Regions from separate parts of the Homo sapiens genome. Here region 1 is linked to region 2. A link means that fine-mapping ties the variant in region 2 to the expression of a gene that starts in the linked region. Tissue or cell type: tibial nerve. Region 2 holds a variant in brackets; the other region holds the start of a gene. All regions are shown on one strand. Distances are between the middles of the regions.

Region 1 (8,000 bases), 35 kb before region 2:
TCAGCCCTGGGAATGAGCTTAATCCATGGCAAGTACTCAGCAAATGCTTCCTGTAGTTAGTGGTGACTATTCTCTGAGAAGGGAGAGCTGGCCCTTGGCCAAATGAGGCTGGGAAGGCTGCATCTAGAAGGTAGGACAAAAAGACAAGGCTAAATTTGCATTTTCATTTGACCGATAGTATCATAAAACTCTTAGCCCTACCTATTTCAGCTTGGCACTGCCACTTGGCTCTGCCTTTTAATCTCCCCTGCCACCTTCCAGCGTATTTTGGTTTGCTTTTTTTTTTTTGAGACAAGGTTTTGCTCTGTTGTCCAGGCTGGAGTGCATCGGTGCCATCACAGTTCACTGCATCTCTGACCTTCCAAGCTTAAGAGATCCTCCCAGCCTCCTTAGTAGCTAGGACTACAGGCACATGCCACCGTACCTGGCTAATTTTTAAAATTTTTTATAGAGATGGGGTCTCACTGTTTTGCCCAGGCTGGTCTCGAACTCTTAAACTCAAGCGATCCTCCCACCTCAGCCTCCCAAAGCATTGGGATTACAGCATAAGCCACCATGTCCAGCCCCACCCTGGAGTTTTATAGTTCACCAGAATGATACTCTTTCTTCTCTCCATTTCTATTTTTTTTCTTGTTAGATTTCTCTTGCAGAGAGGGGTCCATAATAGTGGGGTCTCTTTGCAGAAAAATTTAGAAACAGCTGATAAGAGCATTAGAGGGAACCAAATCCAACTCATCAAATTTACCTAATTTGATGAATGTGGAAACTCAGGCCTAAAGAAGTCATTTTGCAGTATGTTACTAGTGGTCAAACCAGGCTGGATAGGCCCACTTCCACTGGACCTTTCTTATGAAGCATCTGAGGCAAAATGCCAACATTCAGTCTTCTTCTATATCAATAGCTTTCACCTTGGTAGAAGTCAGCTGATAAGCCTCAGGTTTCAAATACGCTGAATTAAAATTATTCTATTTTTTATTACCCACCTACCAGGATGGCTAAAATTAAAAACATTGGCTGGGGGTGGGGGTGGTGCTGGAAAAAAAAAATTAGGCTGGGTGCTGTGGCTCACGCCTGGGAGGCTGCAGCAGGAGGATCACTTGAGCCCAGGAGTTTGAGACCATTTGAGCCTAGAAGTTTGAGACCAGCATGGCCAACATGGTGAAACCCCATCTCTACTAAAAATAAAAAAATTAGCCAGGTGTGGTGGTGCACACCTATAATCCCAGCTACTTGGGAGGCTGAGGTAGGAGAATCATTTGAACTGCGGAGGTAGAAGTTGCAGTGAGCTGAGATCGCGCCAATGCACTCCAGCCTGGGCAACAGAGCAAGACTCTTTCTCAAAAAATAAAATAAAATAAAATAAAATAAAATTAAATTAAAAAGTCTGAAAATACTAGGGATATAGAGCAACTAGAACTTTCAAACATTGCCGTGGAATGTAAATTGACCAAAACACTTTGTAAAACTGCTTAGCACACCTACTAAAGCTAATCATACACCTGTGTAACCTAGCAATTCCCTTCATAGGTATTTATTCCAAGATAATTAAGAGCATTTATCCCCAAAAGACAGGTACACAAATATTCAGAGCAGCTTTATTTGTAATAGCTAAAAACTAGAAACAACACAAATATCCATCGATAGGAGAATGGATAAATAATTTGTGGTATACTCATATAGTCAACTACTACAGAGCAAAACCAAAAACTAAAAGAATGAATTACTGATTCACTCAGCAACATGGATAAATCTCATACACATTATGTTGATGAAAGAAACCAAGGCCCGGTGCGGTGGCTCACATCTGTAATCCCAGCACTTTGGGAGGCTGAAGCGGGTGGATCATGAGGTCAGGAGTTCAAGACTAGCCTGGCCAAGATGGTGAAACCCCGTATCTACTAAAATACAAAAATTAGGGGCCAGGCACGGTGGCTCATGCCTGTAATCCCAGCACTTTGGGAGGCTGAGGCAGGCAGATCACGAGGTCAGGAGTTAGAGACCATCCTGACCAACATGGTGAAACCCCGTCTCTACTAAAAATACAAAAATTAGCTGGGCGTGATGGCGGACAGCTGTAATCCCAGCTACTTGGGAGGCTGAGGCAGGAGAATCGCTTGAATTGGGAGGCCGAGGTTGCAGTGAGCCGAGACTGCACCACTGCACTCCATCCTGGGTGACAGAGCAAGACTCTGTCTCAAAAAAAAAAAAAAGAAAAAAGAAAAAGAAACCAGACACTGTAGGTTCCATTTATATAAAATTCAAGAACAGAACAGACAAAAAAGACTCTATGGTGATATATCAGGATAGTAATTACTGAGAGGCAAAGATATTTTAACATGAAATAACCTCTGGGATACTGGAAATATTCCAGATCTTGATCTAGGTGATAATTACATGGATATATACATATAGAAAAATTCAGCTTAAACTGAATATTTAAGATTTACCCATGTTCTATATGTAAACTACATCTCAATGTTTTTAAAAAGTGCCCCATATTGCATCTGCATTGTAGTAAACACAATACAATAAAATACCTTTATCATAAAAAATATTTTATCGTTAAAATTCAAGACTGTCAACGTCACTGCTTTCATCAACTCATTCTTGGCAGATTGCATTGGTCTCCCATTGCTTTGCCTACTACCAATTCCTCCTCCTCTCTGACAGGTCTTTCTTGCTGAGCACATTTGATTTTACTAATCTCCAGGTTAACAAACTTCCTTGGCTCCCATGTGTCTGTGGGATACAGTATAGGCACCTCAGTGAAGCAAACAAAGACTTTCCTAATGCACCCTCTGCCTTTCCAGATTCAGGGCGACCTCTCTCCTCTATGCCTTTAATCCCTAGCAGCAGAACCTCCTTCCACAACCCTCTCTCTTTTTTAAATTTTAAGACAGGGCCTCACACTGTCACCCAAGCTGGAGTGCAGTGGCGCGATCTCGCCTCCTGGGCTTAAGCAATTCTCCCACCCTAGCCTCCCGAGTAGCTCGGACCCCAGGGGCGCGCCAACCACGCCCTGCTAACTGTTGTATTTTTTGTAGAGACAGTGTATTGCCATTTTTCCCAGGCTGGTCTCAAACTCCTGGGCTCCAGCGATCCTCCCGCCTCGTCCTCCCAAAGTGCTGGGATTACACGCGTGAGACGCTGCACCTGGTCCACATCTTTTCACCTGTGAACGAAGCAAGCGCCCTGTGCTTCCACGGCCTACCTGGTTCTTACTCAGTCAAATTCCTACTCGCATTTCACCATCCCGTTCTCAAGGGTTGGCTCTCAAATGTCTGACAATGGTTCCCACGGCCCTCAGTTCCTATCATCATAAACTCTTTGTGAGCTCAGCACATTCATTATATGAAAACTCTCTATATTTTATTCTGTCCACTCTTGAGCTAAATGTTTCCAGAGAGCTAGCAGAATTTGTTTTCAGCGTTAGATCCCTCTGCTAAACAAACGGGTGCTAATAGAATCACTTTGCTAAATAAATGGGAGCTAACAGGATTGAATATGAGTTCCATTTTTGTCCCAGAGTTCTAGTTTTCATATAAATATTTCTTCCCATTAAATTCTTCTCTGCAGAAGAACTTGGGGATGAAACCCGATACAGACAAGACAGCTTAAGTAAGACATAAATGAGTGTTGTCTCTAGTTTGAGTTTCCTATTTTTTTGAGACAGTCTCCTGCACTGTCCAATAGAATAGCCACCAAAAATATGGATATTTAAGTTTAAATTAGAAGTGAATAAAGTTGGCCGGGCGCGGTGTCTCACGCCTATAATCTCAGCACTTTGGGAGGCCAAGGCGGGCGGATCACCTGAGGTCGGGAGTTCGAGACCAGCCTGACCAACATGGAGAAACCTCGTCTCTACTAAAAATACAAAATTAGCCGGTGGCGCATGCCTGTAATCCCAGCTACTCGGGAGGCTGAGGCAGGAGAATCACTTGAACCCGGGAGACAGAGGTTGCGGTGAGCCGAGATCGCGCCATTGCACTCCAGCCTGGGCAACAAGAGAGAAACTCCGTCTCAAAACAAAACAACAACAACAACAAAAAAAAAACAGAAGTGAGTAAAATTGAAAATTCGGTTATTCAGTTCAAGTACTCAAAAGCCTCATGTGGCTAGTGGCTACCGTATTAAAGAGCGCAATGTGCAATATTTCCATCATCACCTACAGTTTTATTGGGCAGCGCTGCCCTGGTCTTTATTTTCCCTTGTTGGAACGCTCTTCCACGCTGCTCCCACACCATGTCCCCTATCACCATTATTATCCTCATTTCATCTGTAATTACTTGCATCTTTTAATAGGCTGGGAGTTCTAAGACAGAAGGGACTGTGTCTCACTTCTGTTGTTCCAGTGTTTAGCTTTGAAACCCAGGCACACAGTAGGTACTCAGTAAACAGAATGCGAAGGACCGTCCAGAGACACCAGTCCCAAACCCTTTTCCAGGCTGATCGGTCCCCCATAAGTCTCCAGCCTTTTTTATTTTAAAGCTTATTTTAAAGCATGTCCCTGAAGACGAGTGGGGAGAGCAGACCACCCGCTGATTCCAATTCCCTAGGCGGCCGCGGCGAGCTGCGGCGTCTCTGTGCCCCGGCCTGCCCCTATCCCGCCTGCGCCCCGCCCCCGCCCGGCTCGCGCCAAGGCCCGCTGCTGGCGCCGCCGCCATCCCGGCGCGTCACTGCGCAGGCGCGGCCCGCGAGCGTGGGGTATCTCGAGGTGCCGGGTTGCAGGCGCTCAGGAGCGCTAGGGTTTGAGGCCTGCTTTCTGCTCGCGCCAGCAGAGCACTACCTGAGGCAGCGAGGCGCAGCGAGCCTAGCCTCCCCGCGCCCTGGGCAGTGTGGCCATGGAGAATCAGGTGTTGACGCCGCATGTCTACTGGGCTCAGCGACACCGCGAGCTATATCTGCGCGTGGAGCTGAGTGACGTACAGGTAAAGGCCGGGTCGGGCGGCGGGAAGCGCGCGGGATCGCGGCTCCGGGTACCCGCCAGGACCCCTGCCCCCTTTGTCCGCGTGCGCGCCGGAGAGCCTGCAGTGCGCCAACAAGGTCGGCGACGCGGTGCGCTTACGGCGTGCTGGCGCTTTTCGAGGCTCATCTGCAGATCTCGGGCCGGGGGCACAACCCCCCGAGGGCTGCAGGAACCTTCGGGTCCCCAGAGAGCTCGGCCTGGGCCTCTCAGGCTACCCCGGGCCTCTTCTTTGTTCGCAGTCGGCGGCCTTCATGGAGCCCAGGCCCGGCCCTGGCTGCCTGGCCGTCGGGGTTCGAGTTGGCTGGGGCCCTTCGAGATGTGGGATGAGCTTGTTGGGTCAGGGGTGCGGTTGTGACAGCGGCTTGCTGGGCCGTAGCTGAATGCCTGCCGCTGGCCTGAGAGGTCCAGCCAGGCCCCTCGGACGTTACTGAGGCTGGGCGCTGCCGGAGGTGGGGGAGGGGGAGGGGTGGGGGGCCACACCCACCTCGCAACCGTTCAGTGATGGAAATCATTCTCATTACTTTTAATTTTAAAATTCACAAGAGCTGGAGGAAGTGATTTCCCCCTCTGTTCTGAAGGTTGTGAGCTCAGGTTTGCTGAGTTGCACAGAGAACTTAAAAAGTTCTTAAGTTACATTAAGCATTTCTGTTTGAGCTCCTTGGCCCTTAATGTAAGCAAGCTGAAGGCACGTAGTAGTGGAGACTCCAGGACCTGTGTATCCTCATGTCTCTGTCCAAACTAAAGATTCTGGGCTTTGAGAAACTGGAATTTTCATTCTGGAAGGTTCTTTCTTTCTTTCTTTCTTTTTTTTTCTTTTCTTTTTTTTGAGACGGTGTTTCGCTCTTGTCGCCCAGGCTGGAGTGCAATGGCGCGATCTCGGCTCACCGCAACCTCTGCCTCCCGGGTTCAAGGGATTCTCCTGCCTCAGCCTCCCGAGTAGCTGGGATTATAGACGCGTGCCACCATGCCCGGCTAATTTTTGTATTTTTAGTAGCGACAGGGTTTCACCATGTTGGCCAGGCTGGTCTCGAACTTCTGACCTCAGGTGATCCACCCGTCTCGGCCTCCCAAAGTGCTGGGATTACAGGCATGAGCCACCGCGCCCAGCCTCTGGAAGGTTCTTTCTACAGTCATTCTTATTGGAAACTTCTCCTTAACATCTATGGCACTTTGTCATCTCTTTCACTCCATTTAACTCTCTCTGCCTCTGAACAGGCATCTGCTTGGATCACCCGTGGATCCGGTAAAATGTAGGTGCTTTCTGAGTGTCGACTTGAATTTATTGAATTTAATATAATCTTTGCTTCTGGAATATAAACAGTTTTCCTGTTGAAAGATGAAGACAGTAGTGGCCAGAATGCCTTTAAATAGGCTATGACATTGCATGGTGTGTCGTTTAATGTGTTCATCCAGACTGAGGCTATACTTTTGGGTCAGAGTATGAGTAAATGTTCTGTGCTGTCTCCCTCTACTGCTCCACGGTGGTTTAATAGAATAGGAAAAAACAAACAAAATCTTTTGTAGATGGGGATCAAAGTCCCCGTCTAGAGAGGGTTCTTCCAGCAGTCAATAAAAAAGTACGGAACAGGCCAGGTGCTGTGGCTCACGCCTGTAATGCCAACACTTTGGGAGGCCGAGGCGGGAGGATCACCTGAGGTCAGGAGTTCGACACCAGCCTGACCAACATGGAGAAACCCCATCTCTACTAAAAATACAAAATTAGCCGGGCATGGTGGTGCATGCGTGTAATTCACTATGTTGGCTACTCGGGAGGCTGAGGCAGGAGAATTGCTTGAACCCGGGAGGCGGAGGTTGCGGTGAGCTGAGATGGTGCCATTGCACTCCAGCCTGGGCAACAAGAGTGAAACTCTGTCTCAAAAAAAAAAAAAAAAAAGTAACCATCTAAAAATTTTTGGGGAAAAATAAATCATTTTTCCCCCTTATTGAGTTTTTGTTTTCTCTGGGGTTTCACATCTGTAGTTTTGAGGCACCCATATTTCAACTACCATTAGTTTAAAAGCATGATGTTACCCTCATAAAAGAGTGTTTACATGTGTTAGCAATCCTCTAACACATGTAAGGTAGTACAGATTTACAAAGGTGAGTCAGACCCAGCTTTTCAAGGGCATGCTATCTAGAAGGAGGCGTATCATATACAAACAAAAAGTTTTGTGTAGGAGTATGTTTATTGGTAGAATTGGAGTTGGATGTTGAACCAGGTATCTGGTGTTAAAGGAATTTGTTACCTTTCTTTCATTTAGTTAGTGATGACTTCCAGAAATGAGAATTATTTTTGTCAAACTAAGACTGGGAGAATGTTCCAGAAAGAGAAAGGCATAGACTTTTAGACACTTGTAATCTCTGACTTAAGCCGTGTCAATGCCCAAAGGCCACCAATAACACACCCGTAGTTAAACAAGTTGGGTTTATTACTCATTGCATTGAGAGAGCATACTCCATGGGGAACCCTGGGGTGTTTCATTAGGAGGGTGTTAGAACTGATTATAGGATTTGGGTGTTGGTGATTAGGGGAGGGGAGGGTTAAGGAGGTTGGGTTTCACTTCAGATAAGATCCTGTAAGAAAATATGGGAGTTTCGTGGTTGGGTATCTGAATAAATCTTACCTGTAGGGCAGGGAGACTAGTATAAGAACAAAACTGTAATTGCTACAGGAGTAGCAGTCACTCAATTTGGCCAAAGGGTGTTTGGTATTTCGTGAGTGGCATAGCCACTATGTATTTGTCTGTGCTTATAACAAAATTGTGAAATGGCCTTTGTCTCATTTTATGAGGATTTCAGAGTAACCTTGTCTGAGGTTGGTATTCTGTGAGATTGTTTATGTCCCATAGGAGAATAACATGGCCTGGCTGTGAGTGCTATGCCTGCTTCTGGAGTGTCACGGGTTGCCTTTTTTTTTTCTTTCTCAACTGATTGCTCTATGCAGGGCCTGTTGAAACCAGTGGTTTTACATGTGCAGATTTGTTATTTAAAAAAAAAAAAAAGAAAGAAAAGCAGCCGGGTGTGGTGGCTCATG
Region 2 (8,264 bases):
ATGTAGACTAGCTTGATGCCTACTTCTCCAGCCTAATGTCGTTTTTTCACCTTGAAAGTTTCACAAGACATTACTTGTTACTCCCCACCTGGTATTACAGTTTTTAGATTGTAAGCTCTGAGGGCAGCCTTGAACTACCTTTGTATCCCAGTAGTTCTTCTCACAGTACCTTGCACATTGTAGGTATTCAGTTAATGCTTGGTTGAGTGAATATATAACCAAATATCAGGGTTGTTTTTTTCATTTACTGTATCTGTCTCTTTGAGCTAGTTTGACCTCAGTGACCTTAAAGAAATTCCAGAAAAGAAGAAACTATGGATTATATTAAGATGACTGGAGGGCCAGGCACGGTGGCTCATGCCTGTAATCCCAGCACTTTGGGAGGCCAAGGTGGGCAGATCACCTGAGGTTAGGAGTTTAAGACCACCCTGGCCAACATGATGAAACCCTGTCTCTGCTAAAATACAAAAATTAGCCGGGCGTGGTGGCGGAAGCCTGTAATCTCAGCTACTCGGGAGGCTGAGGCAGGAGAATTGCTTGAACCTGGGAGGTGGAGCGTGCAGTGAGCCGAGATTGTGCCACTGCACTCCAGCCTGGGTGACAGAGCAAGACTCTGTCTCAAAAAAAAAAGAAAAAAAAAATTGAGCCGGAGCTGAGGAAATCTTTATTTCCTTTTTGTAATGCCTCTTCAGATGGCCACTCATTTTTTTGCCAGGTGTTATGGAAAAAATACAACACTACAACACTCAACTGCTTTTTCCTATTTTCTTACTCAACAACAATCAACACAGAAGACTTCTGTGACCAAGTGGGTGGGTTTTTTCCCCCACATACCAAGCAAGCAATGAGTTCTGCAGCAGACACCAGCTGGGTGCCCTCTGGTTCAATTCTGACACTGTTTACCTAGAGATAGCATCAGGTTCCCACAGATGGAGGGCTCAGTCCCCAAGACACACCCCTGCCCCCAGCCTGTCCCGAGTCTGAACCTCCAGAACTTGTGACCAATAGGCTGTAAATTACGGTTCCCACAACCCGCTCCTGTGGTTTGATTGATTTGCTAGCGTGGCTCCACAGAACTCAGGGAAACACATTTGTTCATTTATTATAAGGGATATTATGAAGGATACAGATGAAGAGATTAGGAGGAAGTATGGAGGAAGTGGCGCGGAGCTTCCATGCCCTCCCCAGGTGTGCCACCCTCCAGGAACCTCCGTGTGTTCAGCTGTCTGGAAGCTGACTAAACCCTGTCCCCTTGGGCCTTTTATGGAGACTTCATCGGATAGGCATGACTGAAGCGTGTTGAACTGTGTTGAAATGTGATTGGACAAAAAGGGTCTGACCTAAACCCAGCAAGGCCTGTCTGTCCAGATTCTTCTCAGCCTCTCTGTGCAGTGTTCCCTCCTCCAGAGTATGAGGCAAGACCCTCTCTGGAATGAGGGTCTTAGGACCCACAATCAGATTAGAGTCGTGCCTTGGGCAGCTGAAAGGAAGGCAGGGAAGGTCATAGAGGGAGATTCTGTTGTCTGAGGCCTAAAGTGTCCCAACATTATAACAAAAAACTGTAACAAGGGCTGTGGGAGTTATAAGCCAGAAACCGTTGCCGAAAACCTATATATACATATACACATATCATAATATCACACCAGGGGTAATATTTTTTTCTTGGGTTTGTTATGTCTGTATACCTATTCTTCAAGGCTGGGAAAGGAAGTCCTGCTGAAAATACATGCTGGAGAGCAATGTTCCTTGTATGTTTCTCTGTGGGAGTAGGAGCCCAGGCTGGTGAGGACCTGGACCAGGTATTTGTGTGGGAGCTTAGGAGCATTCAGGAAGGAAAAAGGGTTGAAGTCATCCAGATATGCCTCATACACCTGTCTCCTGCTGGGACTATTGCTTTTAATAGCTTACTGCTTTGCTTTGCTTTACAGCTCTTACAAACTTAAGGAAAGGATACCTGTTTATGTATAATCTTGTGCAATTCTTGGGATTCTCCTGGATCTTTGTCAACCTGACTGTGCGATTCTGTATCTTGGGAAAAGGCAAGTAAGACATTTTTGGATTAATTTTCCCTTTCTCAGTAGTTTGGCCCAGTATTCACCAAAGGGAGCACTCTCTGCCTTTGATGTTAATAATAACCCCTGCATTTGTGCAGCACCCTCTACTTTTCGTTGTGCTTTCATAGCTCTTATTTCCCATGGCCTTGTGAAATAAGCTGACTGGTATTCTTTCCATATAACAGGTAATAAAATATAGGCCTAGAGATGGTCAAAAATGGTTCACATCCATAGCTAGCCAGAGCCACATCTTGGGCTAGAATCCTTTTGTAAAAATGTTCACTAACAACTAAATAAATTGATGTGATACTTCCAGTGCCAAAGTTATGCAAGGCCAAAAGGGTTCTCACCCTTTTGGAGCCTAAATACGTTCTAAAATGAACTATTCTAAAACAGAATAAAAAGAGCATCATAAAGATATTAGTTCTTCTTAAATTAATTTATGTGTTTAGCAGGATTCTGGCTTTGACCAGTGGCATTCCATTGGTAAATGCCAATGGGAAATTTTTGAGAATTTGATCTAAAGTATTCTGAAACTTTATTTGATGAATAAATAGGTAATAAAATTTAGGAGAAGAAAGATTAATGGGAGAGGATTTTTCTACCTGATAATGAAAGTATGGACCAGGTGTAGTAGCTCATACCTGTAATCCCAGCACTTTAACAGGCTGAAGTGGAAGGATCTCTTGCGCCCAGGAGGTTGAAGCTGCAGTAAGCCGTGATCATGACACTGTACTCTAGACTGGGTGATGGAGCAAGACCTTGACTCTTAAAAAAATTTAGAAAGGTGGCTGTGCGTGGTGGCTCACGCCTGTAATCCCAGTACTTTGGGAGGTCTAGGTGGGCAGATCACGAGGTCAAGAGATCGAGACCATCCTGGTCAACATGGTGAAACCCCCATCTCTACTAAAATTACAAAAATTAGCTGGGCATGGTGGTGCGTGCCTGTAGTCCCAGCTACTCGGGAGGCTGAGGCAGGAGAATCACTTGAACCCAGGAGGCGGGGGTTGCAGTGAGCCAAGATCGTGCCACTGCACTGCAGCCTGGTGACAGAGTAAGACTCCATCTCAAAAAAAAAAAAGAGAAAGGCATATAAGGTGTACGTGTTAACTTTCTGGTAACTGGTAGAGCTTACTATTCATGACCCCATTGGCCTGCACCCTTCCTGCTTAGTTAAGTAAGAAACTTGAATCTGACTGGATGTTTGTTATTCCTTTCTTACAGTTATTTTCACGAAAGGAGTAATCTAGTTTGAGAAATAGTTCTGTTGGAATTTACCAACTGATTCACCCTTAATGTATATTTTTGCCTATAGAGTCCTTTTATGACACATTCCATACTGTGGCTGACATGATGTATTTCTGCCAGATGCTGGCAGTTGTGGAAACTATCAATGCAGCAATTGGAGTCACTAC[G/A]TCACCGGTGCTGCCTTCTCTGATCCAGGTATTGAATAGTTAAGCTGAAGGGTGGGTAATGGAAGGTCCCATTATTTGTCTAGTGGGTATGTGTATTAGTCCATTTTCATGCTGCTCATAAAGACATACCTGAGACTGGGCAGTTTACAAAAGAAAGAGGTTTAATTGGACTTACAGTTCCATGTGGCTGGGAAGGTCTCACGATCATGGTGGAGGGCGAAAGGCACTTCTTACGTGGTGGCGGCAAGAGAGAATGAGGAAGAAGCAAAAGCAGAAACTCCTGATAAACCCATCAGATCTCGTGAGACTTATTCACTATCCTGAGAATAGCATGGGAAAGACCGGCCGCACTGATTCATTTACCTCCCCCTAGGTCCCTGCCACAACACGTGGGAATCCTGGGAGATACAATTAAAGTTGAAATTTGAATGGGGACACAGCCAAACCATATCATTCTAGCCGTGGCCCCTCCAAATCTCATACCCTCACATTTCAAAACCAATCATGCCTTCTCAACAGTCCCCCAAAGTCTTATTTCAGCATTAACCCCAAAGTCCACAGTCCAAAGTCTCATCTGAGACAAGGCAAGTCCCTTCTGCCTTTGAGCCTGTAAAATCAAAGCACACTAGTTACTTCCTAGATACAAGGGGAGTACTGGCATTGGGTAAATACAGCCGTTCCAAATGGGAGAAATTGGCCAAAATAAAGGGGTTACAGTGCCCATGCAAGTCTGAAATCCAGTGGGGCGGTCAAACTTTAAAGCTCCAAAATGATCTCCTTTGACTCCAGGTCTCACATCCAGGTCACGCTGATGCAAAAGGTGGGTTCCCATGGTCTTAGGCAGCTCCACTCCTGTGACTTTGCAGGGAGCAGCCTCCCTCCCGGCTGCTTTCACCGGCTGGCATTGAGTGTCTGCAGCTTTTCCAGGTGCATGGTGCAAGCTGTCAGTGGATCTACCACTTTGGGGTCTGGAGGATGGCGGCCTCTTCTCACAGCTCCACTAGGCAGTGCCCCAGTAGGGATTCTGTGTGGGGGCTCCAACCCCATGTTTCCCTTCCTCACTGCCCTAGCAGAGGTTCTCCATGAGGGCCCCATCCCTGCAGCAAACTTTTGCCTGGGCATCCAGGCATTTCCATACATCTTCTGAAATCTGGGCGGAGGTTTCCAAACCTCAATTCTTGACTTCTCTGCACCCACAGGCTCACCACCACGTGGAAGCTGCCAAGGCTTGGGGCTTGCACCCTCTGAAGCCACAGCCTGAGCTGTACATTGGCCCCTCTCAGCCAAGGCTGGAGCAGCTGGGACACAGGGCACCAAATCCCTAGGTTGCACACAGCACAGGGACCCTGGGCCTCCGCGCCTGTGATGGGAGGGACTGCCATGAAGGCCTCTGACATGGTCTGGTTACATTTTCCCCATGGTCTTGGGGATTACATTGGGGATTACGTTAGGCTCCTTGCTACTTGTGCAAATTTCTGCAGCCAGCTTGAGGTTCTCCTCAAAAAATGGGTTTTTCTTTTCTACTGAATCATCAGGCTGCAAATTTTCCAAACTTTTATGCTGTTTCTCTTTTAAAACGGAATGCTTTTAACAGCACCCAAGTCACCTCTTGAATGCTTTTCTGCTTAGAAATTTCTCCTGCCAGATACCCTAAATCATCTCTCTCAAGTTCAGAGTTCTACAGATCTCTAGGGCAGGGGCAAAATGCTGCCAGTCTCTTTGCTAAAATATAACAAGAGTCACCTTTGCTCCAGTTCACCTTTGCTTCCAAGAGGTTCTTCATCTCCATCTGAGACTACCTCAGCCTGGACTTTATTGTTCATATCACTATCAGCATTTTTGTCGAAGCCATTCAACAAATCTCTACGAGGTTCCAAACTTACCTACATTTTCCTATCTTCTTCTGAGCCCTCCAAACTGTTCCAACCTCTGTCTGTTACCCAGTTCCAAGGTCACTTCCACATTTTCGGGTATCTTTTCAGCAACATCCAACTTTACTGGTACCAATTTACTGTATTAGTCCGTTTTCCCACTGCTGATAAAGACATACCTGAAACCAGGCCGTTTACAAAAGAAAGAGGTTTAATTGGATTTACAGTTCCATGTGGCGGGGGAAGGTCTCACAATTGTGGTGCAGGGCAAAAGGCACTTCTTACATGGCGGTGGCAAGAGAGAATGAGGAAGAAACAAAAGCGGAAACCCCTGATAAGCCCGCCAGATCTTGTGAGACTTATTTACTAACATGGGAATAGCACGGGAAGACCAGCCCCCATGATTCAGTTACCTCCCCCTGGGTCCCTTCCACAACATGTGGGAATTCTAGGAGATACAATTCAAGCTGACATTTGAATGGGGACACAGCCAAACCATATCTGTATGTTACATTTTGCTAAGAAGTCTCAATTAGTAAAAACACCTATTTGTACAGGAATAGCATTATTTTACCTGAACAAGAAAGAACATTTAAAACCCCAGGGTTATTTACCAAAGTAGACTTTTACTATTTCAGGTCTTTTTCATTTTTTATAATATCCTTATGAAATCACAAAGTTATAAAGAGCTTTAAGACTAGGGAAATTTGACTCTTAGGCAGGAGCTGAAAAACCTACCTTCAGTCTCCTTAGTTAGAAATGTATGTGGTCTCCTCCCACCTTGTGTAGATGAAGGCAGTACTTCTTAAAAACTTGTATTAATGAAAAGTACAATAATCAAACTTTAAAATTTACAGCCAGGCATGGTGGCTCATTCCTGTAATCCCCATACTTTGGGAAGCTGAGGTAGGAGGATTGCTTGAGGCCAGCAGTTGGAGACCACCCTTGGCAGCATAGTGAGACCCCATTTCTAAAAAAATAAAAATTTGCCAGGCATGGTGATGTGCACCTATATTCCCACTACTTGGGAGGCTGAGACGGAAGGATTCCTTGAGTGCAGGAGTTCGATGTTGCAGTGAGCTGGGATTGTGCCACTGCCCTCCAACCTGGGCAGCAGAGCGAGACCCCTGTCTCTAAAAAAAATAAAAAATAAAAATTTAATGGATAGTTTGTGTTGTAGATTAGACATAGCTGAAGAGAAAATTAGTGAACTGTTTTGAGATACAGGAAGGAATAGAGAGCACAAAAAGTAAATATACAGACGTAATTTTCTTGAATTATAAGACTCAATATTATAATATTGTTAGTTCTCATATTTCCCTGTAGATTCAATACATTTCCAATCACAATCTAAAAAATTTTGGAATGTGAGGAGAAAATTCTGAAGCTTTTTGAAAAAACAGAGGGCCATCCAGGATAGTAGCATCATTTTCGATAACTAAAATGTGCAAGCAACCCAAGTGTTCATCTACAGATGAATGGATAAGAATGACTGTTACATACATACAATGGGATATTATGTAGCCTTAAAAATGAAAGAAATTCTCTCGTATGCTACAATGTGGATGAACCTTAAGGAAACTATGCTAAGTGAAATAAGCCAGTCACAGAAAGTCAAATACTAGATGATTCTGCTTACATGGGGTACTTAAAATAGTCAAAACCATAGAGACAGAAAGTAGGATGGTGTTTGCCAGGGGCTGGCTGAATGGGGAGTTATTGTTTAATGGGTCATAGTTTCTTTCTTTTTTTTTTTTTTGAGAGTCTCGCCCTGTCGCCCAAGCTGGAGTGCAGTGGCACAATCTAGGCTCACTGCAGCCCCTGCCTCCTGGGTTCACGCAATTCTCCTACCTCAGCCTCCCGAGTAGCTAGGAATACAGGTGCCCATCACCACGCCCAGCTAATTTTTGTAGTTTTAGTAGAGATGGGGTTTCCCATGTTGGCCAGGCTGGTCTCGAACTCCTGACCCCAGGTGATCTACCCGCCTCGGCCTTCCAAAGTGCTGGGATTACAGACGTGAGCCACCGTGCCCGGCAATGGGTCATAGTTTCTATTTTACAAGATGAAAAGAGTTGTGGAGATGGATGGTGATTATGGTTGCACAACATAATGAAGGTATTTGATACCACTCAACTAAACACTTAAAAAATGATTAAGATGGTAAAGTTTATGTTATGTGTATTTTTTTTTTTTCAGATGGTGTTTCACTGTCACCCAGGCTGGAGTGCAGTGGTGTGACCTTGGCTCACTGCAACCTCGGCCTCCCACGTTCAAGCGATTCTCCTACCTCAGCCTCCCGAGTAGCTGGGACTACAGGCATCTGCCACCACGCCTGGCTAATTTTTGTATTTTTAATAGAGATGGGGTTTCACCATGTTGTCCAGTCTGGTCTTGAACTCCTGACCTCAAATGATCTGCCAGCCTCGGCCTCCCAAAGTGCTGGGATTACAGGCATGAGCCACCGCACCCAGCCATTATGTGTATTTTACCACAATTTTTAAAATGGGAAAAAGAAAAAAGCAAAAGGTCGAGAATATTCTTTAAAGACGAGCTCAAATTGGGGACTTACCCTATAAAAAATCAAGACAGTATAAAGATTTAGTAGCTAATACCACGTTGTATGGTACAAAGATAGTCACACAGACCACGGGAACAGAATAAAACCCAGAAACAGACAACCCAGATATCTATGAAGAATAGAATGTCTATCATATATTGGAATGTCTTGCCACGTGAAAATGAGTGGACTATAGCCACATGCATCAACATAGATGAGTCTTGGCCGGGCGCGGTGGCTCATGCCTGTAATCCCAGCACTTTGGGAGGCCGAGGCGGGTGGATCACAAGGTCAGGAGATCGAGACCATCCTGGCTAACATGGTGAAACCCCGTCTCTACTAAAAAATAGAAAAAATTAGCTGAGCG

Which allele goes with the higher level. Positions count from the first base shown, and alleles are read on the strand shown. Sizes are in standard deviations (SD) of each study's normalised expression.
As copies of A replace G in region 2, the expression in tibial nerve of the gene that starts at base 4,673 in region 1 goes up (small effect, 0.18 SD a copy in GTEx).

The links. PIP is the estimated chance that this variant, and not a neighbour inherited with it, causes the effect.
Region 1: HACD3 starts here. The variant in region 2 is fine-mapped to the expression of HACD3 in tibial nerve (GTEx, PIP 0.93).

Annotation. Positions count from the first base shown.
Region 1 is chr15:65,525,791-65,533,790 of GRCh38, forward strand. HACD3 (3-hydroxyacyl-CoA dehydratase 3) reads left to right here and starts at 4,673. Exons shown (of 11, transcript NM_016395.4): 1 at 4,673-4,928. The coding sequence starts at 4,842. RefSeq lists an enhancer at 2,997-3,497 and a silencer at 4,536-4,755.
Region 2 is chr15:65,560,846-65,569,109 of GRCh38, forward strand. HACD3 (3-hydroxyacyl-CoA dehydratase 3) reads left to right here. Exons shown (of 11, transcript NM_016395.4): 6 at 1,929-2,039; 7 at 3,370-3,497. Among named protein-coding and RNA genes, the nearest start is that of HACD3, 35 kb to the left of the region's middle. The variant G/A (reference allele first, on the strand shown) is at 3,470.